Regions from separate parts of the Homo sapiens genome. Here region 1 is linked to region 2. The links come from fine-mapping of genetic effects on gene expression. A gene starts in region 2. The other region holds a variant in brackets. All regions are shown on one strand. Distances are between the middles of the regions.

Region 1 (17,070 bases), 35 kb after region 2:
ATGTTGTGCAGACTGGTCACCAACTCCTGGGCTCAAACAAGTCTCCCACCTTGGCCTCCCAAAGTGCTGGGATTGCAGGCGTGGACTACTGCGCTCAACCTATGTTTCTTTTTGAAGAGAAGAATAGTGCTTAGCACCTTTCCTTTTTGAACTTTGATTTGATTACAAAGGAGAATCCTGATCTTGCTATTGGGGAAACTTTGACAAGATTATAAACTCTGTTGATATCAAAAGAAAAATTAATTGATTTAAATATAAAATTTAATTTTATAGTATTCTTTCTTTGCTAGTGATATTGTTGGTGGTGAATAAAGCCGCTAAAATAAATGACTGAAGTATACTGGTAGATATTAACACAGTGAACACTGAGTACATTGGGAATGGAACTGAAGGAAAACCCTAGAATGGCCAAATCGCTTTCTTACTTCCTCCCACTTTCCTCACCTTCCAAAAGCCAAAACAGTAACCTCCCACCAACTGTAATGATGAAATCATTGCTTTTTCTTGGATCTAGGAGTTAGCACCTTGTGTCTTAGGGAGATGGTTTGACAAACTCTGGATTTCAACTTTTGTCTTTTTCTAGCTGTTTGACTTCACTAATTAAATGATTTATGTTTTCTGTTAGTAATATTTAAAAAATATTGTTTGCCGTATATAGGTAAAGTGTGCATACTAGTATTAATACATTTTTCTCCATAAGAGGAAGAGTCACTGAATTGTATAGTGTTTTGTAAAAATTCCTCATTATATTTCTTTGCTTTTTTTGAAGTGCATAGTTGACATTTGCTATAAAGTCTCTATATTGGATAATGACGTTTGCTTTAGAAATAATAACAGCCCTTTCTCTTTTTTCCTTTTGCTATCACAGGTAAAGACAGAAAAGTATTTTGTCATCAGGGATGGGCTGGAACTTTCTTTAACCTAGCTGTATTCTCTTACTGACTCCTTTCATCCCTTGGGCCCTCTTTTCCCTTATTTTAATGTTTCTTTTGTATTTATGTTGCAGTCTTTATGATCTGTTGTCCAATAAGTGGGATATAGCTCTGAAAGAATTACATAAAGTACAAGGAAGCATGGGTTATTTGTTTGTTTGAAACATCACAGAGCTGTAGGTAAATAACAAAGAAGCTTGATAAAATGCGCTCTTCTGTCAATCACACAGAACTGAAGTATGTTGTATTTTGTGAAATTCCAAAGATAAGTGAATGAACAAAAAACAATCAAGTCAAGAATGCTTAGAATGTTCTTTAGGAAGTTTACAGGCAGGTAATTATCAGAACAGCATTGAAATAGGTTGCAGGGCTGCAGACTATATACATGGTCAAAGTAATCACTCTTCTGTCCAACTGTGTTACTTGAAGCTGCCAAAAATCTGCCTTTTTATTTGTTGTTTGAGGTGTACCACTCTTATTACATGTATTTTTGTCATTAACCAGTGCACCAGTATTAACTAATGCTGAAGTGGATATGCAACACATCTTGAGACTGGTTTTGATATACTAAAAGGAAAATAATCACCGCATATGATGAATAGCTGTTATATATGAGTATATTATACAGTCTAAGAAATACAAGTAGATATAAGGCACAGTTTCTGCACTTTGGACTTACACTGAACTATCTCATGGGTTCCCAATCACCATTGGATTGGTTGATTCACTAGGAAGACTGACAGGACTCAGCATATAATCCTATTCATAGCTAAAGGTTATTACAGCAAAAAGATACAAAGCAAAATCAACAAAGGGAAAAGGCATATGGGAAAGTTCAGAAGAAACCGTGGCACAAGCTCCATGAGTCTTCTCCTGGTAGAGTCACTCAGGGTGTGCTTAATTTCTCCAGCACTGTATTGTGACAACACATGTGAAATGTTGTCTACCAGGGAGGCTCATTAGAGACTCAGTCCCCAGAATTTTTATTGAGAATTTGTTCTCAATAAAACATTTGGGAACCCTCTGCCTAACATGTACCAAAATTTCAGATTCCCAGAAGGAAAGCAGGTGTTCAGCATAAATCATATTGTTTGTACAAACAGTTTGGGCACAGTGAGCCACTCTTATCAATTACGAAATGGGGACACTCCCAAGATCCGAGTTCTCCGATGCCACCTAAGGGCCAATCTTGCAAGCAAGCCTTTTAAGGATAGCAGTGTCATGCCTGCTATGTTAACTCTTTTCTGCACATGGACATAATAAAAGTTACTTAGCAGTAACTATTTGTGTATGCCTATCATGCCTGGTGTTATGCCAATGGAATCATGAGTAATAGGCTTATATCAATCATAAATACAGCTGAATTATTTTAAAAATAACTGAACAAAGTATATAGCAGTCCTTCTTATTTGTGGTTTCACTTTCCATGGTTTCAATTACCTGTGGTCAACTGAGGTTCTAGTTTTATCATTTCATATCATCATCATAAGAAGGGTTAGTATAATAAGATATTTATAGTACAATAAGATATTTTGAGAGAGACCATATTCACTTAACTTTTATTGTTACAAACATTCTATTTTATTAGTTGTTGTTAATCTCATACTATGCCTAATTTATAAATCAAATTTTATCAGGGGTATGTATGTAGAGGAAATAAACATAGTATACATAGGATTTGGTAGTATCTGCAGTGTCAGGCATCCACTAGGGGGCTTAGAACGTATCCCCCATGCATAACAGGGGACTACTGTATAATGGTTATTACTTACTGATCCAGTGGTTCTCAATTGTATGTGTTAGCTCATATGCTCATTATCAGACTCAATAGCTTATTATGATTATCTTGTTTCTGAAAACAGGACAGTTTTGCAATAAAATTATATGTAGTTGGACATAAATACCCTTGAATAAAATGGCTAGTTTTCTTCTCACAGAGGAAGATGCAGTATATTTTGGTTTTAGAAATAAATGAAACTTTACTTTAAGTTCTGGGATACATGTGCAGGATGTGCAGGTTTGTTACATAGGTAAACTTGTGCCATGGTGGTTTGCTGCACCTATCAACCCATCAACCCATTACCTAGGTTTCTTTTTTTTTTTTTCTTTGAAACCGAGTCTCTCTCTGTTGCCTAAGCTGGAGGGTAGTGGCGCAATCTCAGCTCACTGCAACCACTGCCTCCTGGGTTCAAGTGATTCCCCTGCCTCAGCCTCCCAAGTAACTGGGACTACAGGCGCACGCCATGACGCCTCGCTAATGTTTGTATTTTTAGTAGAGATGGGGTTTCGCCATGTTGGCCAGTCTGGTCTCAAACTCCTGACCTCAGGTGATCTGCCTGCCTTGGCCTCCCAAGTCCTGCCATTGCAGGTGTGAGCCACTACACCTGGCCAATCCATACCTAAGTATTAAGCCCAGCATGCATTAGCTATGTATCCTGATGCTTTCCCTGCCTCCCTGCCCCCAACAGACCCCAGTGAGTGTTGTTCCCCTCCCCGTGTCCATGCTTTCTCATTGTTCAGCTCCCACTTATAAGTGAGAACATGTGGTGATTGGTTTTCTGTTCCTGCGTTAGTTCCTGCTGAGGATAATGGCTTCCAGCTCCATCCATGTCCCTCATTCCTTTTTATGGCTGCATAGTATTCCATGGTGTATATGTGCCACATTTTCTTTATCTGGTCTATCATGGATGGGCATTTGGGCTGATTCCATGTCTTTGCTATTGTGAATAGTGCTGCAGTGAACATACACATGCATATATCTTTATAATAGAATGATTTATATTCCTTTAGGTATATACCCAGTAATGGGATTGCTGGGTCAAATGGTGTTTCTGGTTTTAGGTCTTTGAGGAATCACCACACTGTCTTCCACAATGGTTGAACTAATTTACATTCCCACCAACAGTGTAAAAGTGTTTCTGTTTCTCCACAGCCTCACCACATCTGTTGTTTCTTAACTTTTTAATAATTGCCATTCTGACTGGCATGAGATGGTATCTCATTATGATTTTGATTTGCATTTCTTCAATGACCAGTGATGTTGAGCTTTTTTTCATGTTTGTTGGTAGCATAAAGGTCTTGAAAAGTGTCTGTTCATGCCCTTTGCCCACTTTTTAATGGAGTTGTTTGTTTTTTTCTTATAAATTTGTTAAGTTCCTTGTAAATTCTGGATATTAGACCTTTGTCAGATGGGTAGATTGCCAAAATTTTCTCCCATTCTTTAGGTTGTCTGTTCACGCTTATGATAGTTTCTTTTGCTATGTAGAAACTCTTTAGTTTAACTAGATCCCATTTGTCAATTTTTGCTTTTGTTGCAATTGGTTTTGGCATTTTCGTCATGAAATTCTTGCCCGTGCCTATGTCCTGAATGGTATTGCCTAGATTTTCTTCTAGTGTATAGTTTTGGGTTTTACATTTATGTCTTTAATTCATCTTGAGTTAATTTCTTTTTTTTTTTTTTTTTTTTTTGAGATGGAGTTTTCGTGTTGCCCAAGCTGGAGTGCAATGGCACGGTCTTGGCTCACTGCAACCCTGCAACCTCTGCCTCCCAGGTTCAAGCGATTCTCCTGCCTCAGCCTCCTGAGTAGCTGGGATTACAGGCATGTGCCACCATACTCGGCCGAGTTAATATTTTTTTGTTTTTTGAGATGGAGTCTCACTCTGTTGCTTAGGCTGTAGTGCAGTGGCATGATCTCAGCTCACTGCAGCCTCTGCCTCCTGGGTTCCAGTGATTCTCCAACCTCAGCTTCCTAAGTAGCTGGGACTACAGGCATGTGCCACCACACCTGGCTAATTTTTATGTTTTGATAGGGATGGTGTTTCACCATATTGACCAGGCTGGTCTAGAACTTCTGACCTCAAGTGATCCACCCACCTCAGCCTCCCAATTGAGTTAATTTTTGTATAAGGTGTAAGGAAGGGGTCCAGTTTCAGTTTTCTGCATATGGCTAGCCAGTTCTCCCAGCACCATTTATTAAATAGGGAATCCTTTCCCCATTGCTTGTTTTTGTCAGGTTTGTCGAAGATCAGATAGTTGTAGATGTGCAGTCTTATTTCTGAGTTCTCTATTCTGTTTCATTGGTCTATGTGTCTGTTTTTGTACCAGAACCATGCTGTTTTGGTTACTGTAGCCTTACAGTTTGAAGTCAGGTAGCATGATGCCTCCACCTTTGTTCTTTTTGCTTAGGATTGTCTTGGCTATATGGGCTCTTTTTTCTGGTTCCATATGGATGTCAAAATAGTTTGTTCTAATTCTGTGAAATTTTTCCAATTCCGAATTCTAGTGGATGCTTGACAATGGTAGTGTAATGGGAATAGCATTGAATCTATAAATTACTTTGGGCAGTATGGCCATTTTCACGACATTGATTCTTCCTATCCATGAGCATGGAATGTTTTTCCATTTGTATCGTCTCTGATTTCCTTGAGCAGTGGCTTGTAGTTCTCCTTGAAGAGGTCCTTCACTTTCCTTGTAAACTGTATTCCTAGGTATTTTATTCTCTTTGTAGCAATTATGAATGGGAGTTCATTCATGATTTGGCTCTCTGCTTGTCTATTTTTGGTGTATAGGAATGCTTGTGATTTTTGCACATTGATTTTGTATCCTGAGACTTTGCTGAAGTTGCTTATCAGCTTAAGGAGCTTTTGGGCTGAGACAGTGGGGTTTTCTAGATATAGGATCATGTCATCTGTAAACAGAGACAGTTTGACTTCCTGTTTTCCTATTTGAATAACCTTTCATTTTCTTGCCTGATTGCCCTGGCCACAATTTCCAATACTGTGTTGAAAAGAAGTGGTGAGAGAGGGCATCTTTGTCTTATGTTTGTTTTCAAGGGGAATGCTTCCAGCTTTTGCTCATTCAGTATGATGTTGGCTGTGGGTTTGTCATGAATGGCTTTTATTATTTTGAGGTATGTTCCATCAATACCTAGTTTATTGATGGTTTTTAACATGAAGGGATGTTGAATTTTATTGAAGGCCCTTTTTTGCATCTGTTGAGATAATCATGTAGTTTTGGCCTTTAGTTCTGTTTACGTAATGAATTCGTTTATTGATTTGCATGTGTTGAACCAGCCTTGCATCGTGGGGATGAAGGTGACTTCATCGTGGTGGATAAACGTCTTGATGTGCTGCTGGATTTGGTTTGCCAGTATTTTATTGAGGATTTTCACATTGATCTTCATCAGGGATATTGTCTTGAAGTTTTCTTTTTTCTTTCTTTTTTTTTGAATTGAAGTCTTGCACTGTCACCCAGGCTGGAGTGTAGTGGTGTGATCTTGGCTCACTGCAAACTCCATCTCCCAGGTTCAATCGATTATCCTTGCCTAAGCCTCCCAAGTAGCTGGGATTACAGGTGCCCACCACCACGCCTGGCAAATTTTTTTGTGTTTTTAGTAGAGATGGGGTTTCACTATGTTGGCCAGGCTGGTCTCAAACTCCTGACCTTGTGATCTGCCCACCTTGGCCTCCCAAAGTGCTGGGATTACAGGTGTGAGCCACCACGCCCAGCCTTCTTTTTTTGTTGTATCTGTGCCAGATTTTGGTATCAGGATGATACTGGCCTCATAAAATGAGTTAGGAATCCCACCTCTTCAGTTGTTTGGAATAGTTTCAGAAGAAATGGTACCAGCTCCTCTTTGTACCTCTGGTAGAATTCAGCTCTAAAACCGCCTGATTCTGGGCTTTTTTGGTTAGTATGCTATTTATCACTGCCTCAATTTCAGAACTTGTTATTGTTTTTTGTTGTGAGCACTTAGTGCTATAAATTTCCCTCTTAACACTGCTTTAGCTGCATCCCAGAGGTTCTGGTATGTTGTCTTTTTCTTCTCATTGGTTTCAAATAACTTATTTATTTCTGCCTTTATTTCATTATTTACCCCGGAGCCATTCAGGAGCTAGTTGTTCAATTTCTATTTAGTTGTGTGGTTTTTAGTGATTAAGTGGTTTTCTTAATCTTGAGTTCTAATTTGATTGTGCTGTGGTCTGAGAGACTGTTTGTTATGATTTCAGTTATTTCGCATTTGCTAAGGAGTGTTTTACTTCCCAATTACGTGGTAGATTTTAGAGTAAGTGCATTTGGTGATGAGAAGAATGTATATTCTGTTGATTTGGGGTGGAGATTTCTGTAGATAACTGTCAGGTTCACTTGATCCAGAGCTGGGTTCAAGTCCTGAATATCTTTGTTAATTTTCTGTCTCGATGATCTGTCTGATATTAACATTGGGGTGTTAAAGTCACTCATTATTATTGTGTGGGAGTCTAAGTCTCTTTGTAGGTTTCTAAGAACTTGCTTTATGAATCTGGGTCCTCCTATATTAGGTGTATATATATTTAGGATAATTAGCTCTTCTTGTTGAATGGATCCCTGTACCATTATGTAATGCCCTTCTTTGATCTTTTTGGTTTAAAGTCTTTTGACAAAAAGTAGGATTGCAACTCCTGCATTTTTCTGCTTTCCATTTGTTTGGTAAATTGTCCTCCATTCCTCTATTTTGAGCCTATGTGTGCCTTGGCATGTAAAGTGGGTCTCTTGAATACAGCACACTAATGGGTCTTGACTCTTTATCCAGCTTGCCATTCTGTGTCTTCTAATTGGGGGCATTTAGCCCATTTACATTTAAGGTTAATATTGTTATATGTGAATTTGGTCCTGCCATCATGATGCTAACTGGTTATTTTGCCAACTTGTTGATGTAGTTGCTTCATAGTGTCATTGGTCTTTGTACTAAAGTGTTTTTGTTTTTTTCTTTTTTTTTTTTTTTGCAGTGGCTAGTAACAGTTTTTCCTTTCCATATTTAGTGCTTCTTTCAGGAGCTCTTGCAAGGCAGGCCTGGTGGTGATGAATTCCCCCAGCATTTGCTTGTCTGAAAAGAATCTTGTTTCTCCTTCACCTAGGAAGCTTAGTTTGGCCAGATGTGAAATTCTGTGTTGGAAATTCTTTTCTTTAAGAATATTGAATATTAGCACCCAGTCTCTTCTGGCTTGTAAGGTTTTTGCTGAGAGGTCCACTGTTAGTCTGATGGGCTTCCCTTTTTAGGTGATCTGGCCTTTCTGTCTGGCTGCTCGTAATATTTTTCCTTCCTTTCAACCTTGGAGAATCTGATGATTATGCACCTTGGGGTTGATCTTCTTGTGGAGTATCTTACTGGGGTTCTCTGAATTTCCCTAATTTGAATGTTGGTCTGTCTTGCTAGGTTGGGGAAGTTCTCCTGGATGATATCCTGAAGTGTGTTTTCCAGCTTGTTTCCATACTTCCTGTCTCTTTCAGGTACCTTAATCAGTCATAGGTTTGGTCTTTTTACATAATCCCATAGTTCTCGGAGGTTTTGTTTGTTCCTTTTCATTCTTTTTTCTCTGATCTTGTCTGCCTGTCTTATTTCAGCAAGATAGTCTTCAAGCTCTGAAATTCTTCCTTTCAGCTATTTATACTTGTTGCAAATTCTCAGGTTGTGTTTTTCAGCTCCATCAGGTCCTTTATGTTCCTTTCTAAACTGGTCATTCTGGTTAACAGCTCCTGCAATGTTTTATCATGGTCCTTAGCTTATTTGCATTGGGTTAGAACATGCTCCGTTAGCCCAGTGAAGTTTGTTATTGCCCATCTTCTGAAGCCTACTTCTGTCAGTTCATCCATTTCAGCCTCAGCCCAGTTCTATGCCCTTGCTGGAGAGGTGTTGCGATCATTTGGAGGAGAAGAGGCACTCTGGGTTTTTGAGTTTTCTGTGTTTTTTAGTTGATTCTTTCTCATTTTCATGAGTTTATCTAGCTTCGGTCTTTGATGTCCTTTAGATGGGGTTTTTGTGAGGACCTTTTTGTTGATGCTGTTATGCTGTTGTCATTGTTACTGTTAGTTG[TTTG/T]TTTTTTTTTTTTCTTTTTTTTTTTTTTTTACAGCCGTCTTCTGTAGGGCTGTTGTGGTTTGCTCGGGGTCCGCTTCAGACCCTATTTACCTGTTTCCCTCCTGCATCTGAAGGTGTCACCAGTGGAGGTTTCAGAACAGCAAAGATGGCTGCCTGCTTCTTCCTGTGGGATCTTGGTCTCAGAGGGGCACCGACCTGATGCCAGTGGGAACGCTTCTGTATAAGGTGTTTGGCAACCCCCCGATTGGGTCTCACCTAGTCAGGTGGCACAGGATCAGGGACCCATTTAACAAAGCACTCTGGCTGCCCCTTGGTGCAGGGCATGTGCTGCTCTGGTGGGAATCCTACTCGTCTGGACTGCCCCAGTTTCTCAGAGCCAGCAGGGGAAAGACTAAGTCTGCTGATATGAGGAGATCGTAGCCGCCCTTGCCCCCAGGGTCTCCATCCCAGGGAGATCAGAGTTCTGTCCATAAACCCCTGACTGGAACTGCTGAAATTCCCACTGGGAGGCCCTGCCCAGTGAGGAGAGATGCATCCAGGTTTGATCTAAACAGGCAGTCTGGCCACTATCTGCCACAGCCACTGGGCTCTGCTGTGGGAAATTCCTCCTGGTTCCAAACCACCCAGTCTCCCTGGCACCGGCAGGGGAAAATGGCAGACTGGAGCTGCAGTGGTGGCTGCTGCCCCTTCTTCTGGGAGCTCGGTAGTGTTAGGCAGCAGCCATCATCTGCAGTGATGGCAGCCACCCCTCTCCCCGGGAACTCAGTAGTCTTAGGCAGTCCCAACCGCCTAGCCAGTCCCAGTGAGAAAACCTAGATACCTCAATTCCCAGTGCAGGATTCACTTGCCCTTTTCATTCTTGGTGGGAGCCTTTGACCGCAGCTGTTGCAGCTGTTTCTAGTCAGCCATCTTGGCCCCAATGAAATATTTAAATGCTAAAAATTTAAATGACAAAATTAGTGAGAATTTTGTCAGGATGGATGAATATAGTTTTTTAAACAGTTTATGTAACTCATCTTTCAAGGTATAATTGTGTAAAATCTACATTTGAACACAAATGTGAAGAATTACGTATCTTGAAATTTTAAAATATTGTTAAAATGAATATATATTATTATAAAATGTCATAGCTTTTTTACTAATACTTCATTAACAATATTTTATTGTTCTAATCTTCCTAGACATTAACTTTGAATTATTTTGCTATAATAGACTTAAATACTTTCATGAGAAATTAATCTAAAATTAAATATGGCCTTTAAGCAGATGTGCTTGTATATACAATCTGAGTAGAAGATCACACTTCACTTAAGTTACCTGATGATCCTGCAGTTGCAGTTGGCATTTTTTCCTGGTAATCAGAGCCTGACACTGGTAAACATTTTGCAAATACCCACAGATAATCATATTTTACTGAAATACATTTTTATAGGAATCTTGTATATCTGTTGGAAAAATAACAAAGGAGGCATTTTGGTTTCTACAAAACTCTGGAATGTATTAGACTCTCAGATTTAAAACCAGTTATTAATAGCCCGTTTTTGAGGGTCTGGGGACAGAATTTGCTTTGAAGCGTAATGTACAAAAGAGATAAAAGCAGTTTTATTGTATTGTGCTTCATTTTGTTACATTTATAGAGCCAGCACATGACAGCAATGTGTGATTTTGATGAAGCAGATTTTAAATCAGAAGTTATAGGTGACAGTTGCAGCCTAGTATGTATCTCCTTCCACTTCCTTTTTGTGGTTTTCTCTTTTGGGAGATAGAAAGTATAGAATAAATTCTAAATCCTATAAATCAGCAGTTTTAAAGAATAATGATTTCTTATGATTTATTCAAATTTTCAGAATATTAAATAAAGGTGATAGAGATTTTATTCTGAGGCCCATAAACAAGTTTATCTGGTGTCATATTTTAATACATTGGTTGTCTCCATTGTATTTGCGTTTGGTAATACTGTTTGCATATATTTTAGTGTTAGCCAAATATTACATCACTAAAAATATAATTTTACAAAGCAAATAAAGAATTTTCTGATTCCTTTGAGCACTTGAACCTTAGCGTTATGTGGAATGTACTCATTTAAAATATTTATTATTCCCTGTATGTCAGTTACCATTTTATAACAGTGAATAAAATAGACAAAAATCTTGAAAGTTATGAACTTTAGTGGGGGAGGGGAGGATAAATAATAAACATTATTAGTAAATATAAGTGCCTTAAAGAAAAATAAATTTTGATAAGGTCAGTGGGGAGTGCTGATGTTGAAAATGAGGCTGCAGTTTCTAATACGTGATCAATATAGGTCTCACTGAGAAAGTGACATGTGGACCAAATTCTTGAAGGAGGTGAAGGAGTGAGATAATTCAGATATCTCTGAGAAGAATGATCTTGGCAGAAGGAATATCATGTGCAAAGACCCTGAGGTGTAAGTGAAGCTGGCATGGCTAAGGGACACCAAAAAGGTCACTGTGGTTAGCTTGGAATGAATGAGGGGTAGAGTGAATAGGGAGGAGTTCAGCAAAATGATTGGAGGCAGAATCTTTCAGGGTCTCCTGGGTACTGAGGACTTGTAGCTAGTAAGGAGAAAAATGGAAAGATGAAGATTGCTTTGAACAATGAAAAGAGACAGGGTCTGATTTATAATCAGCTCTCATTGCTATGTTAATAATAGGTGGAATAGGGACAAGGGGAGAATTAGAGACACCATTTTTGTCTGATTGTGTGATTGATGTGATTGTGTGATTGATGTGATTGAGATACTCCAACTGACAGATGATGGTGGACTGGAGGGGTGGTAAAAATGGAAGTGGTGAGAATGAGCACATTTGAGATATATTTTGAAAGTAGAGGCAACAGAGAAAGAGATGGCTCCTTATTTGTCCTGAACAAGTAAAAGAGGAGGAGTTATAGTTAGCAGAGATGAAGAAGACTGTGTGTGGAGAAATTATATTATTTTATTTTATTATTGGTGGTAGATGGACTCAGAGTTTAGTTTTGGATATGTTAACTTTGAAGTGTCTTATTAATTATTGCAGTGTGAAACCACTTTATCAGACAGTAGTAAAAATCTCTCTTATAAAGGGAAACAAAGGAGTAGAATGTTTGTACAATTGTGGTGGTTCTAATGTTTTTGTGCACATTATGCAGGTTCTATTTTCTGTTAGTGAACTATCAGTAACATGTTCAACTTGGATAGTGATAGATTAAAAATTGACATTTGTATTCCTTTGCCTTCCTCTTAAGATTTCAGATAGACCACTCTCCCTCCAGAAGAAACCATAACTACACTGATTTGTTAATTCAACAAACTATCCTTCAGTACTACTATGTGCAATACATGGTGTTAGATACAGTGGGGAATAGAAAGACATGGTGTCATAGCTCAATAAAAAGAGTAAATTACCTATTCGGTATCAACTGACTTGTTAATATAGCAGGACCATTATTAGAATTCAGCTATCTTTATTCCCAACCTAGTGTGTTTTCCATAATAATGTACCTTTTAACTATGTCAAAGATAGCAAATACAGTTCATCTGTGTCAACTTTAATCAGTTGATAGTGGCTGTCTAGCACATTGTGAATGGGGTCAATCAGAAAGAATGTCATTAGATCAATTAGCTATTACTTTATATTACCTAAACTTAGTATAATTTAAAATTTGATAATGAGTTTATTCAGTTTATAAAGAGTTCTGTTTTTGGCATGGCCTAGTAGCTCCATTGCACAATTCCTTCTGCAGAAAACTACTATAACCTATGAACAAAATAGGAAAAATAACTACCCGAAAGCACTGGAGAGCAAACAAAAGCAGACAGAAAATAGAAGTCAAACATTGAAGGAAGGAAATAGCACTGGGTGAGTCCCCTGCCAGGTAGGGTGGCTGAAACTCTTGACAAACAAAACCCCTCAGTCTTGTTGGTCTGAAGAACCAAGGACAGGGTTTGGTGTAGCTGCAGGCCTTGGAAAGTGCGTGTGCATGCATACTCAAAGTAAATTAAATTGCCTGCTTAAATGAAAAAGAAAAAAATTATTCAGAAAAAACAGAACCCAAACTTTCTACTCGTATTACTCACAACATTTGCAGTAGAATGCAAAATTATTCAGTGTACACAGAAACAAGAAGACATGAACCATTCTGAAAAGAAATCAATGGACTAACTTCAAGATAACTCATATGTTGCTATTAGCAGACAAGAATCTTAAAGCAGCTGTTGTAATTGCTTAAGAACCATAAGGGAAAATATGTTTGCAATGAATAAAAATAGGAAATATTAACAGAGAATTTGAAGTAATAAAAAAGACCCAAATATAAATTCTAAAACTGAAAAAAAAAAAACTGACATAAAACTTTTAGAATGGAAATGAATAGGAATCATAACCTAAAGATAGATCAAGGAAATACCTAAACAGAGAGGGGAAAAAAAAAGATTTAAAAAATGAGCAAAACCCTTACGGACTTGTAGGACAATAACATAAGGACAACCTTCATGTAAATGGAATGGCATACTTGCCAGAATGGCTACAATTAAGAGCACTAACAACATTCACAAAACACACATCTGCCCAGTGACCTAGCAACTCTTTCCAGGAGAAATGAAACTACGTAAACAAAAAAGGCCTGTATGCTAATATTTATAGTAGTGTATCTATCAGTAGCCAAAAATTGAAAATAGCCCAGATTCGTCTCAAAAAAAGAAGAGATGACTAATTGTGGTGTACTTGTACAATGGGCAATAAAATGGAACAAACTACTGTTCTGTACGACAGTTGAGATGAATTTCAAAACTATTATGCTTAGTGAAATATAAGTGAAAAAAGTGTATACTCTTTTAATATTATGTTCTAGAACAGGCAACATTTATATAGTGTTTCAGAATAGACAAAACTTATATGAACAACAGTTGCACTACGTGGGAGTGGGACAAGTATTGATTGAAAAAGGATATTAAAGGAAGTTTCTGGAGTGATTTTAATATTCTGTAGTTTTCGGTGGTTTGTATTGCACAAAGGTATACTTTTGTTTCATTGAATGGTATATATTAATACTCATTTCATTTTAGATCAGTGTTATCTAATTAGAAAAATGTAGACAAATATTGAACTCTTATCACATGCATGATGAAGTATTTCTGGGTAAGAAAACATATGTAATGTATAGTGTTGACAAGATTTTGGAAAAGCAGGTATTTACACTGCTGGCCAGGAATAACAGCATGAAAGGAGCTTGTATTTAAAAAATTCACAAAAATTCATAAATGTGGCTACTCTCTTACTTAGCAGTTCTACCATTAGGATTTTATCTTAAGGAAATGATAAGAGATGTACAATAAAATATGCATAAGGATGTTCAACATAGCATCATATATAATATGGAATATTGCCAAAAATGTAGTTGTCAGCAGAGTCCGATTGCTTATATAAATTATGGTACAGCCATAGGATATAAGATACATACATTTGTAGTCACAGTAAGTGTGTTGATCAGAGTGAGAAACTAGTTAACAATATATTGTATTTATTCAACAGTTGGCAAACTGCAGCCTGATGCCCAGATTTGGTCCACCACCTATCTCTGTAAACAAAGTTGTTTTGGAACACAGCCATGCTCATTTACTTATGTATTGCCTATAGCTGCTTTCACACTACAGCAGTAGAGTTGGGTAGTTGCAACAGAGACCATATGGCCTACAAAGCCTAAAATGTTTACTCTTTGGCTCTTTACCGAAAACATTTCCTGACTCCTGGTTTAATCAAATTAAATTCTAGAAACACAGGAAAGGCTTGCCTAAATTAACTAATTCCGTAAATTTATGAATACTTACCATGTATCCAGCCCTGCACGTAAGCTGTCTACATAAATGTGACTGAAACAGATTCAGTCTGCATTCTTATTGAGTTTAAGTATGGCAGGGGAGATAGTTATCAAATAAATATTCAAATTAAAATTGATTCTATAAAGGAAGAGTGCAGTGAGGAAATGTTAACAGGTATTATTTCTAAGTGTTGGTAATATTGGCAATTTTAAAACTTGATTCCTTTTCTGAGTTTTTTCTAGGATTTAAATATATTTCATTGGAAAAAGGTAACAAAGATTGAGTAGATAACTAGACATTGCTTCAGTAATTTTTAAAACTTCTGATATTGCTCTGAATGCACAGAATTAAGTTTAATTTACAGAATTAAGTTTAATATCATGTCTGTTAAATATTATTGGTTGCCTATCACATGTTCAATACTGTGAGAAGTGCTGTAGATACAGAGTTGAAGTCTGAGACTTGCTTTTGAGTACCTTATTGTGTGGTTGATAAGAGACAAACCAGGCACAGAAAATAGAATTACACCATATTAAACAATTTATAATAAAATACCTACATGTTACTTTAGAAAAAAATAAGCCAGTGAATTCTGATATAGGCAGGTGAGACTTAATGAAGTATGTGGGTTATCAACTGGACCTTGAAGTACGGCTAATTATTTGGCTAAGTATAGGGAAACTGGAAAAACATTTCAGACCAGAGACCCAGGATTTAAGGCACAGAGGTGAGAATGGGCATGTTTGTTGATACAGCAGCAAAGAGATTGACCTTAGGAAACCAGTGGTGCATTAGGGGATTAATGATGTAGATAAAGACTGAGAGTCAAGGCTGATTTTGGAGTGTCTTAACAGTCTGAAACAGAAGTTTAGATTTGATTTCTGGTTAAAAAAAATCAGAAGAATTTGAAATCTGTTCTTTCTACCTCCCTTTATTCATTTTTTTCCTCTTTCTCTTCTGTGTATTTCCCTTCCTAGGAAAATACTTCATACAAATAAAACGGAAAGATTAATTTTACCACCAAATACAAGACAAATTACAAGTTTACTTTTTAAATTTTGGCTTTCTGCATTCTTTTAAAACTAGAAGCTGTTTTCCATTAACAGTGACAGACAGCAGTGTAACCATGTGTGTTTGCTAGAACTAAAGAGACGTCCCTATCTCAGATTGCTGTGGCATAACCCGTGGCATTTATTCAGAGTGAGGCTGTTTTAAGAGAATGAGCATTAACTGCAATGTAGTCCTACAGAGATAACTGAACAGTCTTTTTGCTATTGTTCTTACAGGTGTCCTACGCATTATTCCTTACCTTCTCTGGAGAAATTGATTCACCAGATTTGTCAGATTTTTAAATGTAATATTTTGTTTTATTTGAAATCAAAGCTAAAGAAATATGTTCTTTGCTCTAAGAACATATTTTAGCTATGTTTAGCTAAATAGCTAAACACAGTTTAATCTTTTAATTTAATGGCTACTGACTTGTGCTTACATAATCTGAAAGTTCACATTGTCAGGCTGCTTTTTTCCTTCTAATCAACACCAGTAATTTTACTCTGCATTCTAATATATTACCTGTGTTATTATCTTTAAAATGCATCCACGAATGATCTGTTTACATTTAACTTTTTCATCCCTTTGATTCTTCATCATAACCTTAAAACTTTGGTTTTAATGACAATCAAATTCAAACCAGAACGAATTTAACTCTAAGTTCATATTATTAGATATCTTTCCTTATTTCAGCTATCTCTACCAGCAGAGCTTAAGAAAATCCGATTTGACTTGACTAGACTTACTAGGACATATCTTTCTGTAAGATTTCCAGGTCATCACACACAGCTCAGCTTCTTTTTGACTTTCTGAACTTTGCCATGTATTTGTTGCAAAGTATTTCCGTAGTTCAACCCTGTACTCATACCTTCCTAGTCAGTGACATTGCCAAAGGACAAGTCTTGCATAGAATTAAAGTGATGGGCAGAATCTTTATGATATTTTTCAAAGTGCTTTATGTAAAATATTAGGTAATTGACTAGCTTTAGGTCAAACCATGGGTAAATATCAAGCACATGATTAGAAACCAGTTCTTGGCCAGGTGTGGTGGCTCACGCCTGTAATCCCAGCACTTTGGTGGGCTGGGGTAGGCAGATCACTTGAGGTCAGGAGTTCGAGACCAGCCTGGCCAACATGGCGAAACCCCATCTCTACTAAAAATAAAAAAAAAAAATTAGCCAGGTGTCATGGCGCATGCCTGTAATCCCGGCTACTCAGGAGGCTGAAGCAAGAGAATCGCTTGGATGCAGGAAGTGGAGGTTGTGGTGAGCTGAGATTGCACCATTGCATTCCAGCTTGAGCAACAGAGAGAGACTCCATCTCAACAGCAACAACAACAACAACAACAACAAAAACAAAAAAAAAAAAAAAAGAAAAGAAGAAAGAAACCAATTCTCTGCAGTAATATATTGTCTTG
Region 2 (17,070 bases):
AGACAATACCCTTGACATAGAAAGACAATATATAAATCAGTAAAGAAATAGAAATAGTATAAATTAAAATGGGAAAGAATATAGATCGACATTTCACAGAAGGCCAATTAAAGGGCTAGTAAATACATAAAAATGTTTATCAGTACTAATAAAAAGTAAAAGGTTGTAACAATATGCCTGTTTGTAGCAATTTTACAAAAATATTTAAGATGACTTTACCTATTGCTAACAATTTATCCATAGTAATTAGCAAAATAATTTTACTCCTAAGAATTATCCTTCAGAAATAAACAGAGCTAGAGATAAAAGCTTTATTTTTAGAATATTTATCTCGGTGTTAATTGTGAAAGAAAATTTAGAAACAACCTAAAACATCAACAATAAGTAAAAAGTGAAATAAATTTTGGTATCCATGTACAGCTTTGACGAAGACTTTAATTTTTTCTAAGCTTCTAATAATACAACTAAAAGGAAGTATGTATAGATATATTCAGTATATGTTTTATATGATTGATAATGATTCAAGCATAATCAAGTGAATGATTATTTCCCTTTAATCTTTGCTTTTAAGTACCCAGAAATCAATACCTTTATAAATTTATCCAACAGATATTTGGTGAGTGGCTTCTATGTCTTAGGCACTGGGAGAAATGCTAGGTGAGGGGCTTTGGCATTTGTGAGTCTTTGGGTCTCTAGCTTACTGGCCACCATATGATATGGAGCTGAACTATGTATATAGAACCAAATCCAGAGAAAGTGTGACTGTCACACCTGGAGTAGCATAACACATGGGTCTTCAAAGAAAGAAGGCCTGGCATGAGTATTGAGAGCTAAAGTATTGAGAGCTAAGGGATTTTCAGCCAGAGAAGGTGAAAGCAAAGAAGAGCAGATTACAACAGGCAAAGAATAGGCAAATAGTAATATGGGGTCATCCCGACAAACTAGTAGGCTGCTTCCTGTGCTTGGATTTTCATGTATTCTCATCCAGTTCTGTTGCTTGTATGATCTTATTCTATGGGCATTGAGAGAACCATTGCAGGTCTTTGTATTAATTATGACAATGTTTTTGAGTAGCAAGAGGCAGGAACCAACTTAAACAAACATGGGAAACAACGAGCAAGTGTTCTTTTAGACCAGATTGCATGCAGATTGATTGTCTTGGAATATAATCCCAAGAAGCAGGAGTGAGGAAGAGGGAAGAGTGAAAGAGGGAAGGACAGAAAGATAATACATGAATGTATCATTAAGTTTCCTACTTCACAGGTGACTGGTGTGGTTTACCACGAGACCTTTGCAGGAATCTTTAAAATGTGTTTCAAGATTGTCTGCCTGGGGAATTAAAAAATGGCGCACATTTATCCATTGGATTCCATTCACTATTAATCAAGGTAGTCCTACCGGCGTTAACTTCCCCTACACTTCTAGATTGTATATGAACTGCTACTGAGAGGGTGCCTGTGCATGTTCCATGGTGTAGTGTCAGAAGCAAGTGAGAGGCACAAGGCTGAGGCAAGGTGCTGTCAAGTTGCACCTACATGAAGAAGGTTGAAGGAAGCTTGAAAAGAACCAGCCCCATGTATAAGATTTGGGCCAAAAGTATTTGAAGTGGTGCACAAGAGGTGTCCTATGTATGTCTGTTGTGGCTCAACAAAGAGCAAAGACACAGAAAGGCAGATATAGAGCTGAGCCTCACAGAAACTGCAACTGGAAACCAAACTTCTTCTGGACTTTCTCAGTCTTAAGTCTCTGTATCTCTTTGGTTGGGCTTCACCTTTTTCCTCTCCCTATAGGTAGCTTTCACTACATGGCAAAAACTAGTCTTTTAATGACTTCTACATATTTTGCATTTAACAATTGCAGACTCAGAATACAAACTGAGATGTTAGACTCACATCTATAATTTCTAGGACAGAGTTTCATCAGCCTTTCATAGGCCAGGTATCCATTTTTGGACCAATGAATATGGGTAAAGAGAGATGTCATGTAAGGACACGAGGACACTGGTAGAAACCATATAATAAAGTAGGGAAGGAACAGAAGAGCAAGATGCCAAGCAGACAATACCAGAAATGTGTACCTCATGTCCTGAGTTAAGAAAACATCTCTTAAAGTATATAGAACCTGGAAGTACCTATAGCAAATAACCAGAAAGGACGAAAATAGTGTCAGAATTAAGGCAGGAGTTAGGGACAGGGAAAAGAACAGAAATGATATTAATAAAGAATAATTGATGGGCCATGTGACCCACTTCAGTTTTACATGGTGCCCTTACATTCTCCATTAACAGGAATTTGTGCAAGAAGCATTTATGATGCCAAGTCCTGTGAGAAATGTAGGGGACTACCATAGCACATAAGACACAATCTCTTTCCTCAGAAAGCAGATAGTCATGTGACTTAGTAACAACAGCAATACCTTATTTTTATAGGACATCTTTCATCTACACTTTGAGATCCCTGGCTCCATGACACAGAATCAAATTAATAGAAGTTAACATAAACACTCTTCTTTACTAAAGGTCAAGGCCTGAGTTCTTTGGGATGTCTTCATTTGGACTTAATGCTTCATGTCTAATTGGTAAAGATACCAGAATCAGTGATGTGGGATTGTTTTGTTTGAGCATAGCACTGGGAAGAAAGCATTGAAACTTGATAGCAATACTTAACATTAGATTTTTTTTTTCTTGTATCTTCTTTGGCTCCAAATAGTAGTGGATAATCTAGCTATTTTAACCATATTCATAGGGCATGGCACTAATCCCACACCTATTCTACATGGTAAAAGCTTTGTCAATGAGGACTCCATTTGCCTTTCTCTTGTTGAAAATCTAATTATTCTTTAAGACCTACTCGAACATAAGCAAGTATATAAAGTCTTCTGAAAGTCAAATTAATTTATCCATTCTTTGGGCTCCCATATCATCATCTATCAGTTGAATTGTAATTATTTGTTCATATATTTTTCTATCTCCCTCTAGACTTTGAGTCCTTAAAGGCAGAAACCTCATCTTACTGATCTTTATTTTCCCAGGATTCAGTACAGTGAGCGGCATACAGAAAATTCTCTGATCTGAAGGAGGAATGGTGCTCAATTAAGACATTTGTCTTCTTTCAGATTAGCAGGGTGGAGATACTTGGTGTTAAGTCACTAAAGTTTTCATAACTTTGTTTCCTCTAAATGAGCAAAAGGTCTCTGACTTGTTTTCAGTGCAGTTGACCCACTAACTGGTATGTCATTGATGTTTCAGGCTCGGTGTACAACAAAAAACACTCCTGTGTTTTCTTCGTCAGTTCCTATGAGAAATTCTACAGAGGATCATAGCACCCACACAAAGCCAAAATAGGAGAAATCCAAGATAAGTCATGTCATAGTATTATTATTACTTTTGAAAATTATTTCATTTTCTAGGAATAGAGCCTCTGACCCCAGAGAATATTGTGGTCTGTCTCAAAGGAGGCCACCCAGAAAACCATACACAGTAAAAACAAAACATAAAATATAGAAAGCCTTCTGCAGAGGTGAGAGGTGATATTTCACACTTTTTTTTCTCACCTGATAAATGATAGGGCACACTGCTAAATCTCCTTTCTTCATTTGAAGGTTGTTTCACATAATACTGATTTAAACCCATTGTTGTCTAGATTTCAATCCTGAAGGCAGAGTAGCTCTGAATAAAACATTTTTAAAAACTACATATCCTGTAATAATAGTTTGAAAGAACAGTTTTCAAAAGTGAAAATAGAGAGGACAATCATCATAGTAACAATTACTATAGTTTAAGAATGGCCTACTGTGTGCTGGACACCACTGTCAGCGTTTGTAACAGGGCATCATTAAGGCTCAAATCAATCATGCGGAGGTGGGTTATATTTGTACAGATGAAAAAATTGAGGCTCAGGAGGATAAACAATTTACCAAAAGTTACATTTAAAGTAGCAGAGCAGCTATCTCTATATATACAACAACATGAATAAATCTCATAACCATGAAGTTGAGCAAAAAAAAGCCAGATAGGAAAGACTACACACTGTATGATTACATTTATATAAAGATCAAAAACAGGCAAAACTAATCAATGCTCAGAGAAGTTATGAGAGTAGCTACTTTTGTAGAGAGAGGTTTTACTAAAAGGAGATAAAAAGGAAAGTTCTGGATGACTAGAAATGTTCTATATTTTGACAGAACATTATTCTGGGTGGTAGTTCAAAGTGTATAAACATGTAAATGTTCTATATTTTGACAGAGCATTATTTTGGGTGGTAGTTCAAAGTGTATAAATACGTAAATACTTAGCTGCACAAAGATTTGTAGTCTTTACTGTATATAAGTTATATCTCAATTTAAAAAGTTAAGTAAAGTAGGGGAGAAAAATGAGTTTAGCTCTGTGTATTAGGCCATTCTCACGTTGCTCTAAAGAAATACTAAGACTGGATAATTTATACCAAAAAGAAGTGTAACTGGCTCATAGGTTGGATAGGAAGCATGATGCTGGTATCTGCTTGGCTTCTGGGGAGCCTTCAGGAAACTTATAATCATAGTGGAAGGTGAAGGAGGAGCAGACATGTCACATGGCCAGAGCAGGAGTGGGAGAGAGAGGAGGTGCCACACACTTTTAAACAGATCTCACAAGATCTCATTCACTATCGCAAGGACAGTACCAAGAGGATGGTGCTAAAGCATTCATGAGAAATCTGCCCCCATGATCCAATCACCTCCCAACAGGCCCCACCTCAAATATAGGGGATTACATTCAGCATGAGATTTGGGTGAGTACATACATCCAAATTATATCACTCTGTTTAGTTCCAATGGTCCTAGTGAAAACTAGATACTTTTTCTGCATCAGTTTCAAGTTTTTATATTAACTACAAACTCTTACCCATTTTTCCAGGATAGCCCAAAGAAGTCTTTACAGGTAATTTAATAAACCATTGTATGTAAGTTAATGTAGCAGAAATTGCAGATTACAAGGAGGTTGGTTACGAAAAGTTGATATAGTAATCTGGGACTAAGTTTATAAAGAGTTTTGTGAACCTTACTAAAAGAAGGGGTTTGAATTTTATTTATATAAGGAACTACTGAGGATTTATATATGTATGTATGTATGCATGTATTTGTTTCAACTGGCAAGTTAGATAGTATATATTTATAGTGTACATCATGACGTTTAAAATACATATTGTGGAATGACAAAATAAAGTTATTTAACATATGCATTACTCTACATACTTATCTTTTTTTTGTAATGGGAATACATAAAATTTATTACAGAGTAGCAGTTTTCAAATAGACAATATATTGTTACTAACTGAAGTGATCATGATGTACAGTAGATCTCTTGAACTTATCCTTCCTGTCTAATGGAAATTTTCTATTTTTTTAATTAACATTTCCCCAAGGTCCCCAAACCCCTAGCTTCTGGTTACCACCATTTTACTCTCTGTTTCTATAAGTTTGGTTTTTTCACACTGCACATATAAGTAAGATCATGCGGTATTTTTCTTTCTGTGCTGAGCTTATTTCACGCAAGAGTCTTTCAAAATTGAAGGACACATAATGTCCTTCAGGTTCATCCATGTTGTTGCAAATGACAGAATTTCTCTTTTTAGAGCTGAACAGTATTCCATTGTGTATATATACCATGTTTTCTTTATCCATTCGTCTATTGATGGACCCTTAGGATGATTCCATGTCTTGGCTATTGTGAATTATGCTGCAATAAAACATGGGAGTGCAGATATCTCTTCAGCATGTTGCTTTCATATCCTTTGAATATATACCCAGTAGTGGGACTGCTGGATCATATGATAGTTCTGTTCTTAAGTTTCTGGGGAGCCTCCAGACTGTTTTCCATAATGGCTGTACTAATTTACATTCCCACCAGCAGTGTGTAAGTGTTCTCTTTTCTCTATATCGTCATAAATGTTTATTATCTTCCTGTATTTCTGCTATTCTAACAGATCTTAAGTGATATCTCATTGTGGTTTTAATTTGAATTTCCCTGATGATTAATGATGTTGAACATTTTTTCACATACTTATCATTTATATGTCTCCTTTTGAGAAATGCCTATTAATGTCCTTTGCCCATTTTTATATTGGGTTATTTGTTTTCTTGCTATGGAGTTGTTTGAATTCCTTATATATTTTGGATATTAGCTCCTTATCATTTGTATGATTTGCAAATATATTCTCCCATTCCATAGGTTGTCTCTTACTGGGAATTTTATATAAGAAATTTTATAATCATATTTGCTGTTGTGGGTGACATGGAATAGAGAGAATAAGTGGGAGGAAGAAATGCCTAGGAACAGAGAGCCAGTTCAGAACTATTACAATAATATCAGCACAAATGGGCAGACCTTGGACTAGGAGTTATGACTCTGATTGGCAGATGAAATAAAGATATATTAAGGAAGGAGAACTGACTACATGTTTTGATCAATCAGATGTAGAGAAGGGACAGTCAGGAGCTGATTGAAGTGGATAGGTGAACTGAGTCAGATTAAAACAGGCCCTATTCAACAGCCAGGAAAACAGGGACAAAGTATTTTATTCTGGTGACAGGCTAACACTAGACAGGTTCTCAGGGCTCTAGTGAAGTGATTTGGGATTCAGGGAATAATTGTAGTCCTTTAAAAATATTTCAATGCTTTTATCAGTTGAACTGTGTCTCCCAAAATTCTTGTGTTGAAGTCCTAGCCCCCAGCACCTCAGAATGTGACTGCATTTGGAGATACGGTTTTAAAAGAGGTAGTTTAGACAAAATGAGGCCATTAGGATATTCATTAGAGTTGGTCCCAATCCAATATGGCTGATGTCCTTACAAGAAGACATTAGGAGACACAGCCACACAGAGGGAAGACCATGTGAAGACACAGGAGAAGATGCCATGTACAAATCAAGAAGAGAGGCCTCAGGAGAAAGCAACTCTGCCGACATTTTTGATCTCAGACTTCTAACCTGCAATTGTGAGAAAATATTTCTGTTGTTTAAGCTACCCAGACTGTGGCACTTCATTATGACCACCCTAGCAAATAATAGAAATGTCAACATGGACCTAAGTCCTTTTAAACCAGAGAAGGCACAAGCCATGCAAACTGGGTGCTAAATAATACAGCTCAGAAAGTAGGCAGGGCCACCAGGGACCCTTGATTAGTGATCTTCTGGCCGAGAACTACTTCTAAATCCTATCCTCTGGTAGAGATGAGGCGTCTAATATTCTTTCAAGTTTGATTCTTACTGACTCAAATTTGAAATCTCATTGATTTCAAGTTTTATTCTCATCTGTAGCAGAGCCAAGCTGCAGATGAAAAGTCTTTACTTCTGATGCTAAGAAGAGGCAGAAGCAAGGAGGGGCTGACTGATAATCTCAATTTCAAAAAACAACTAGCTGCATATCAACATATAGCATAAAGGAATGTTAGATCCAATTCAGAATTGACTCAAAAATAATCAAGATACTTGTTTCTACTTGCACATTCCTTTGCCTTCACATACAAAGAGAAATTCACTGTGGTTCAACTACTGTTATTACCCTGCATTACTGCAAATTTCTCTGAACTGATCTTTCTGTTTCATTATCGCCACTGTTAGCCCCCAATAATGAGGATCAAGGCAGATCATTTCAGGCATGAATAGGCACATTGCCATGATTTTCTCATTTGTCTGTATACATTTGCCAAAAAAAGGAATTATCCAGAAATCTTGACTCTTTGTCTTAGTCTTCTAAATCCAATTTCAAAGGATAGATTCTTCCTTTGCAATTACTCTCACATCCATCCTTTTATATATCCCAGTTGAGGCTCTTTTCATATCTTGCCCAAACCAGTACAATAGCCTCCTTACTTTTCTGCTTGCCTTTTAGCTCTTTCCTCGCTGCCTACATTCATCCTGCGCAAAACTTTTATAAAACACCTTTAGAAAATTTTGACCACAATGCTCTTTTCCTATATATTAACCTTCAACAGATTCTGGTTGCTTATAGTAACACATTCAAACACACCTCTGTCTAGTGTTTAAGGCTGTGGGAATCTGGACTTTTCTAGCCAATGCATAACTGCCCTAGCTTCCCAAATCCTAAAATGCATTGAAGTAGTTTCAAGCATTGCCCACCACATGCCTGCCACACAGCCCCGTGGTGCTTCCTGCCACACAGCTGGGTGCTTCCCACCCCTGTGCTTTTGTTCATGTGATTCCATTCCTTAGCCTGTACTCTGCCATGCTCCACCATGCTCTTTCAAGAACAGTTCAAATCCCAGATGCTTTTGCTCTCATTTTTCTCCCAGCATGAGATGCCCTTTTTTCTGTCTACTCATTGTACCCATCGTTCAAGGCCGAGCATAACTTCTAACTTATCTCTGAAGTCTTTCCTAACCATTGCGGCATTCAATCCTTTGAGAAAGGCTTTTGTGGGGTCACCAGTTACCAGACGTTGCCTGAGCTCTAGGGATCACAGCTGGGTAAGACACTGTTCCTAATTTCCAGGATGATGTCCTCTCCTCTTTCCTTGAGCTCCTTTTGCAGTTACTACCCAAAGAATTGCCTATTAATAATGCGATGCCTCAGGAAATTTCTTCTGTTTTTAATTGCCAATTACATTCGCTTAACTTAAAAAATGACTTATCTTCCCTAGGTATAGATTGTAAAGACTCAGTTTCCCCCCAAAGTATCTGGTTTAACATGGGAGTAGAGAGAGATATACTATTATGTATCAGGTATTGGGCTACCGTTTTTGCTAGTGCTTCTCCTGGTGTGATACGTCTAGCAGTTCATTCTATGGGGCACACAAAACCCATGATATTACAGATACTGTTGCTTAGGATAAGGCTAAAGTAAATAGTGCCTATTTAAGTGTTTTTAAAAATGTGTTGATTTAAAAACAAATGTTAAATAGTAATGTTTCAAGTAATAGCTATGGCAGAAATGGTAGAAGTGGTCCTTTAAAGTCTTTCAAATGCATTGTATGATATCACATTTATTCCTCAGAACAACCTTGTAAATTGGAAACCAAAGTCCAGAAAAATAATAGAACTTACTCAACTCACTAAGATAACAGATCAAACTTTCCTCCTTTACCATAATACCCTTTTGCATATAGAAAGATTTAGTTTAATTCTTGAATATGGGTGTCTGACCTGTGTTTTCATACTCCATCTCCTCAAAAAGATTGCTTTAGCTTTCTAAATCAAATCCTTCACCTTCAGAACAATAAAAGAGGCATACCAGAGTCATTTTGGTGTATTTCTAAGCATATTTACAAAATATACAAGGAAAAGGACCTGATTCCCTGGCTGGGTGAGTGAAACGTTAATTCTTCACCTTGGCACCTCAACCTACAGCTGTAATAAGGGCCGTTATGCCCAAATAGGCCCTTAAACGGAAGACCTGCTGAGCAGAGACCCACTTTCCCAGCCCTGCTCAACTGCCTCAGCTTTTCTGCCAACTGACCAGGCGGAAGCAGCAGCAGGGGAGGAGGGACTGCAGGTAGGTGGGGAGGGGATCATTTTGAAAGCCCTGAATCCCTTGCAGGGAAGAAGCAGCTGCTCCTTGTTTTTCTAAACATCTGTCCCATCTGTCCCAGGCCTCAGCTCACCCTTTCGTGGCTCGAGCCAGTTAAACGTGAATTTGACAAGGAAGCACTTCTGAAGGCTGGTTTGTGAGTGGAAATGAACCTAAGTGCCACCTAGAAAGTTTCTTCTATTGAGAAGAGGTGAGTAGTGGGTCTTCAGCGGGACGGCTATTACCTTCCTTCATTTTACTCTCACAAAACATACAGCTTTTACTGATAGAGGCAGGATTTGTAACATCACCCAAATCATACTGTACGTCCTGAGGATATTATTTCACAACATAGAGGTACTTCTAGAGCCCATATTTTAACGTCTAGGAGAGCCACAGTCTTTGATTTGAAGGAGAAATAACGATATTGCACACACCATATCACCTTTATGGTAGAACAAGCTGTGAACAACTAGTGCGTGTGGCGTTTATCACATTTAACAGCGTGTTGCTTTTATTTGTCTCCTCTGCCACACTGCTCCTTGAGAACAGGGACGTTATTTTTATTGTTATTTTCCCCTCGTATTCAGAACCGTGGCTGGAACTTGGCAGGCATGAAATAGACATTTATGAATGAATGAACGTTAACGAAGAAAAAAAAAGGAACTGGATGATTCATTTGGTTCTCCGAAGGCGGGTATGGGGGACGGGGCTCGGACTTTGGCCCAGTCACCGAGTGAGGCACAGTCCCAAAGTCCTGCAGGTCCGCCTCCAGTCACGGCCGACCCGGGTCTGCAACTGGTGCACAAGCCTCCTGAAGCGAGGCTGCGCGCGTCCTGCACGGTCCCGCCCCAAAGGCACGCAGACACGCCCCCTTTCCTGGTCATTCCCCCTGCGAAGTCAGTTCCACTCTAGTTACAGGATTGGGGCGGGGCCAGAAAGGCGCAGGCGCAACGGGCGGCGGAAGTAGGAGCCTGGGAAGGAAGAGGGAACGGGTCCTGGCGGTGCTTTGCAAAGGGCCCGTGTTTCTGTTGCGGGAAGCTCCCGGGGGTCGCACGTGCGTCCGAGCCCAAGCCCCTCCCCTCCACTCCCCTTCCTGCGTGCCCCGGAGCCGCCAAGCGGCTACGTTCTTCTCGGCCCGCCGAGATGGCGCTCGACCCCGCAGGTACCGGGGCGGGAAGCGGGGTTTGCCGAGGGGCCTCGCCCCGGGTCTCACGCCGCGGGCCATGCGGGCTGGATGCCGACCTGGGAAAGGTGCAGAGCTCTGGGTAGCATTGCTTCCACCAGCGTCTCCTCATACCCGGCGGCTGCTTCGCCCGGTCTGAGGTCATCTTCTCACTTGTTGGGGATTATGGTTATCTGAGGTTGCGTTTGTTGTCTAAAGTATCATCCATTGTGGTTTCCAACTTAACGCGACTAGTCTCTTCATTGTCACCCTCTTTTCGCCCCTTAAGGTCACAGATGCATTTAATGTATGCTGCAGACACTCTGGCCCCAGAAAAATTTGTATATTTGTTCTGGCGCACAGTTTTACATTTCTGTTTGGGAGTTCATGGACCCCGAGTTCATCCTTGTAACCCAACTTAAAAACATATTTCAAAGGATCCATCACTATGGCAGGAGTCAGTTTCTTTGGAAAGGATCTTCAAAATCTTGAATGTTGTTTTAATCTCTTTGCTTCCAGCCACTTCCGTTTGCAGCAATAGTTAACTTACCCTCGAATTCCCGTCCTTGTGGAAGGTCACCTGCAGTATCTTTGCGTTAGGCTATTTTTGCAAGGGAATAGATAACATTTTTGGAGGGAATGGTAGTTGGTCTAGTCCATTTCTTTCATTTTATGGATACAAAAAGTCAAAACATTGAGAGGTAAATGGCGTCAAACTTGGGAGATTCAGAAATGGAAAATGCTCTTTCGGAGCCTTCAAGGAGCATGGAAAATATATGTAGCACAGAAATAATGTTTTAATTGAACATGTTATTACCATGCTAAGTGTTCTCTATTATCCAACAATAATATGTGGTATGGTAGGTCCTTTTAGCTCCATTTTACAGATTAGGAAACTGAGGCGAAGAGAAGTTAAGTGACTAGTCCAGCAGGTAGTGGTAGATCAGGGAGTACTCTAATTTGAAGCATAGAGGAGTTCTGGAACATAATGATCATATTCATTTTGGACTAGGTGGTTATGAAGCAGTTAGCAGTTGATCTGGGCTTTGAGGGATGGAATTTCCAGTGGTTGGAGCTGGAGAAGAGGCAGCCCTATGAGCAAAGGTTTAGATAGTAAGGTGCACTGTGCGATGCTTGGTTTCAGGATGACTACCATGATTTGGTTCTTGAGGGTAGAAGGGGTAGAGTATAAGTGAGGGGTGAGTAAGGAAGGTTCAAGTTTAGGCCCATATAATTTATGGTATCTTTTTTTTTTATTTTACTGAAACGGAGTCTCACTGTCGCCCAGGCTGGAGTGCAGTGGCGCTATCTCGGCTCACTGTAGCCTCCGCCTACTGGGTTCAAGCAATTCTCCCACCGCAGCCTCCTGAGTAGCTGGGATTACGGGCGCCCGCCACCACGGCCGGCTAATTTTTGTATTTTTAGTAGAGATGAGGTTTCGCCGTGTTCGCCATGCTGGTCTGGAACTCCTGACCTCAAGTGATCTGCCTGACTTGGCCTCCCAAAGTGCTGGGATTACAGGTGTGAGCCACCGCACCCAGCCTAATTATGGTACTTCTGAACTTGAAGTGACCTTTAAAGTAATCTCATACGGATGAGGAGACTGAGAATGAGAGAGGTTAAAGATTTCCATATATCTACACTTTTTGAATTTAGACAAGGAAATTTGGGAAAAAAGTCTTCATACTTGCTCTCTTCACTTGCTTACCTTCCAGTTACTCATAAGCCACTCCAATCTTGTGTTGTACCCAAGGCCACACAGCTAGTTGCTGGTAGAGTCAAGTCTGGTTAGAACCTAGGTAATTTCATTTCCAGTCCAGTGCTGTAGACCATGCCACCTTTTGAGTATTGATTAAACAAAGACTTGTTGAGTGTCTGGTATATGTCCCATATTGTTCTGGACCCTAGGGAACAGTAGTACATAGGACAAACAAAATTCCTGCTCCCAATAAAGCTTATCTAGTGGTAGAAAAAACAATTAACACCCCCTTTTCCCCCTACACAGACACGTGCGTGGGCACACACACATACACACACACATTTTTACAGATTGTGATAAACATGAAGAAAATAATGTCATGTGGTAGATGGTGAAGAGATTAGTCAGTGAAGAGCTTTATGAGGAAGTGTCATTTGAATTGGAATCTGAGGGATGAGAGGAAGCTAGGCAGAGTGTGCTTGGCCATCAGGTAGCAAATACTTAAAATATTTAACTTGAACGTGGGTCAGAGTGTGGAGGGGATCCATAAGGAAAGATATTGGGAAAGTAGGTAGTCACTAAATGCCTAGATATTGCAGAGGCTGCAAGTCCTCAAAGGCTGGCTGTGATAATAAAGCATTTGGATTTTTTCTAATGGCATCAAATGCCTTTAGAATCTTTTAAAGAGGGCAGTAACATAATTTATGTGTTTATTATCCTCGCTACAGTGGTAGCATGCATTGTAGAGGGGTCAGGTCATAAGTGGAAGAAGGGAGACAGGTTAAGGGATAGGAGCAGTAGTCCAGGCCAAATATGTTTGTATCTTAGCCCAAGATGGTAATAGACAGATGGAAAGAAATATACAGCGTCATGAGGAGAAATTGACAGGACCTGTGGTTGCATTGAATAAGGATGGTGAGAGAAAGGGAGGAAACAGTGGGCACCGTGGCTCATGCCCTTAATCCCAGTGCTTTGGGAGGCCGAGGCAGGCAGATCGCATGAGCTCAGGAGTTTGAGACCACCCTGGGCAACATGGTGAAAATCCATCTCTACTAAAATACAAAAAATTTAGCCAGGCATGGTGGCACACGCCTGTAGTCCCAGCTACTCAGGAGGCTGAGGAATGAGAATTTGAGCCTGGAAGGCAGCGGTTGCAGTGAGCCGAGGTTGCGCCACTGCACTCCAGCTTGGGCCACAGAGTGAGACTTCGTCTCAAAAAAAAAAAAAAGAGGAAATAGGGATAATTCCAGTTTTTGTACGTCAGCAGCTGGGTGGAAGGTCATGGTCAAATCTAACAATGTGATTATTGGAAACTTCATCAAAGGAAGGAATGGAAGCAATGGAGAGTAAAAAAGTGGAGTCAGCAAGTAGGAAGGTTTTTTTTTTTTTCCCTAAATTGTTTTGTCTGTTTAAATTCCAGAATAAAATGTATGGAAGCCAGTTTTTTTTTTTTTTTAATTTCGTGTTTATTTGGTTCATACGTTGAAGCTTAGTTTCACATTTTGATGTTTTACTGCTTTGTACAGCCCACGATGGTATTTGCCCATATTGAGTAAGTGAATAATAGATACACCAATTGAGGTTCATTTAGCAAAATCTGTTTTCCTATTGGTTTATTTTGTATTTTCTGTGATCTTTATAGAAGCTTGATTTTCATTTGGCAGCAACTTTTAATTAACTTTGTAGGGTCTCTGTTTTCCTCAAGAAACTGTGAACCCAGCGAAAAAATGCAGGTTACATGCTTATACATAGTTTTATTTACATTATTTTCCTTTTTTTTGTTAATGTAGCAGTAATAACAGCAATCTTTGCTTATTGCCATGTTCCGGACAAATTTTCAGACATGATTATATTCTCAGATGATGGCCCATAGGAACCTGCACCTGATAAATTTGATTTTTCACTTTCTCTATCAACTAAAGTAATTCCTTTCTCCCTTCTTTGACCTTTCCCCTTTTTAGTTAGGTTCTCTTCCCTCTGTCAACATAGATTCATTCTCTACTTATGCAGAATGGGGCATGGCAGCCTAAGGGAAGTTTCCTTAATCAGGTGTGTGTGTGTCCCTGTGTCCTTCTATTGCTGTTTTTTTCCGGGAACTTAATAAAAGGAGGAAGATGGGACAGAGATAGGGCTTAGGGGGTGGAAAGTGGGTTCAAGAATTTCATGACATTCCATGAGAAGGTGTTTAAGGTATATGTGTCTTGGGAAGATTTAATTATGGATGTTCTTGGAACATTTGGGTTGCAGTACTCCAAGTTGGGGTTCTTTCAGTGGTTCCTGTGGGAATGTAGGTAAATTACCTTTAGGGGTACAGGAACAGTACTAGCCCTTACATTTACTAGAAAATTTTAAGTTAGACATGTAAACAAACTTGAAGAATCTTTTTTGAGCATTGTATGTTTAATATGTAAAAGGTTGTGGAGTTGATTAGAAAAATTTTTTATTTTTTTTAGTGATGGGGTTTCACCATGTCGCTTAGGCTGCACTTGAACTCCTTGCTCAGGAGCACTTGAACTCCTGGGCTCAAGTAATCTGCCCACCTCGGCCTCCCAAAGTGCTGGGATTATAGGCATAAGCCACCCTGCCTGGCCTATAAGAAAAATTTTGATTTTATTATTGCCGCCATATCTCTAGAGTATCTTCTTAGACATAAATTACGTTGGTGGCTCAGAACAAAAAAAAAAAGACCTAACATCTACATTTTGTATATTTATAAATTAAAAGCATATTTGCCATAGAAAATACATTATTTTTGTCTCATCGGATTAACAACTCTCTGATGGTTGCTCTGTGAAATTTGAAAAACACAGGCTTAAGCAAAGACAATAAGAAAGAAGAATTGAGATCAAAGAGGAGTATGTGCCATGGCAGTGGGTTGGGGGTTGGGATTTCAGTTTTGAAGCATGAAATGATCTGTAAACCATTTCAAGGATTTTGAATTTTATACTAAGAACAATGGGAAGACACTGCAAGTTTTTAGGTAACGGAGTGACAAACAGAACTCTCCTTATTTTGTGTTGATCTGACTTTTGTTTAGATCAAGAATAACCTTGATCTCAGCCACATACTGCATACATGATGTGTCTTTCCAGAGTATCCCATCTGGAGGTACATGGGTATCTGTCTCTCGTAGGTGATGTTAATTTTGATTACCCACTCAAGGTTTTGCCCTGTTTTGTTGCCGTATTTTCTCTGTTTTGCAATTAGTAACTAATCTGTGGGAAGGTTAAGACCTTGTAAATATTTGCTTCTCATCAAATATTTCTCTTTGATTTGGGGTCCATTGATTTTTTTTTTTTTTTTTTTTACCTGATTCAGTCTTTCCCATAATGGTTGCAAAATAATGATTTTCTACCTCCAGCACACTCCCTTCACATTTACTAGATGGTTGTTGACATTTTACTGTAAGCAAGAGATTGCTTTGTTTCATTTTCATTGATTTATGAATTTATTATTGGTATTTTTGGTAAGGACTCATGAACTGCTGTATTTTCAATCGTTTGTACTCTGTTAATGTACATAAGTATTTTTTGTGTTCAAATTTCCCCAGATTTGGCCAGAGTTCCCTTTAAGCTAGCTTCTGGATCTTTGTCATATACTCTCACCATTTTTTTGAGCATTTCCTTTTTATTCCCTCACACAAGGTATCACTGCTTCATCTTGTACCTACCCTGGCCAATCCATACAATTAGTTATTTCTCTGAGAAGCCCTGGTTCCTTTTATTTGGGCACAGTATTAGAGAGTAAGAGCTGGTCACTAGAACTGCATGTAATTTGGGTGGTTTATTAATAGATTGCCTTTAGGAAAAGAAAAAAAAAACCCTTAAGAGAGTAAGGAAAATAGGAGACGGGAGGGGAAAAATCTGAGCAAGGATGTGGTTTCAGGTCTTAACCTAATCAGCTCTGGTGTACCACATGGTACATACAGTTTATTGTGCCTTGGAGGCAAGGGAGCTGGGCTTTCATGCCCTTTTTCAGTCATTGGTTACTGTAGTAGTTGGGAGAGGGACAGCAGCAAGGAAAACAGCAAAGGGCTACCATGGCCAGGGGCAGTCCTGAGAAGGTTGCAGATGTGAATGCTCCAACATTCTCTGCTGCAGGAGGGATACCAGCTCTATCCTAAAAATAATTTATCTGAATCTGTTAGGAATCTTAGTTGGATAGTAAGAGTTTTGATAGTAGTGAGAGTTCAGATAGTGACAGGTCAGATAGGAATGGGTACTTGCACACATGTATACATACACACAGGTGTGTGTACTGCATCCAGTAAAGTGTCACAGGTTGTGGTTAACAAGTTTGAATAACACTGGCTTAAGATATACCTAAGGTAGGCTAAGCTGTACTTTTTTTTTTGTCTTCTAGGCCATCGTACATGCTGTTCTCTCTAGAATTTCTCCCATCTTCCCTATCCCCAGGTCTACTGAATTCTTGTTCATTTTTCACAACTCAATTTAAAATCAGTTTCTTAGGAGAGTTTTCCTGATTGCCACCACCTCCAGTTAAACATTTTTTTTTAAGGTTTAGGATTAAAAACTCCACCAAAATATCATATAACCTATGTATAGAGTTGTTTTCCTTTTAGATATAAAATCCTTTTCTTTGACGAATAAAAGGAAACCTTTTATTCAGATATGATGCGCCTATATGTAACAAATAATTGGAGAAATAAAGAAAAACATAATTTGAAGAATGGGAATGTTCTACCT

What was found.
Region 1: its variant is fine-mapped to the expression of CMC1 in subcutaneous fat (TwinsUK, PIP 0.95).

Annotation. Positions count from the first base shown.
Region 1 is chr3:28,266,543-28,283,612 of GRCh38, forward strand. All of the region lies in intron 2 of CMC1 (C-X9-C motif containing 1), which reads left to right. Among named protein-coding and RNA genes, the nearest start is that of CMC1, 33 kb to the left of the region's middle. The variant TTTG/T (reference allele first, on the strand shown) is at 8,783.
Region 2 is chr3:28,231,148-28,248,217 of GRCh38, forward strand. CMC1 (C-X9-C motif containing 1) reads left to right here and starts at 10,472. Exons shown (of 4, transcript NM_182523.2): 1 at 10,472-10,665. The coding sequence starts at 10,647. RefSeq lists a silencer at 10,685-10,764.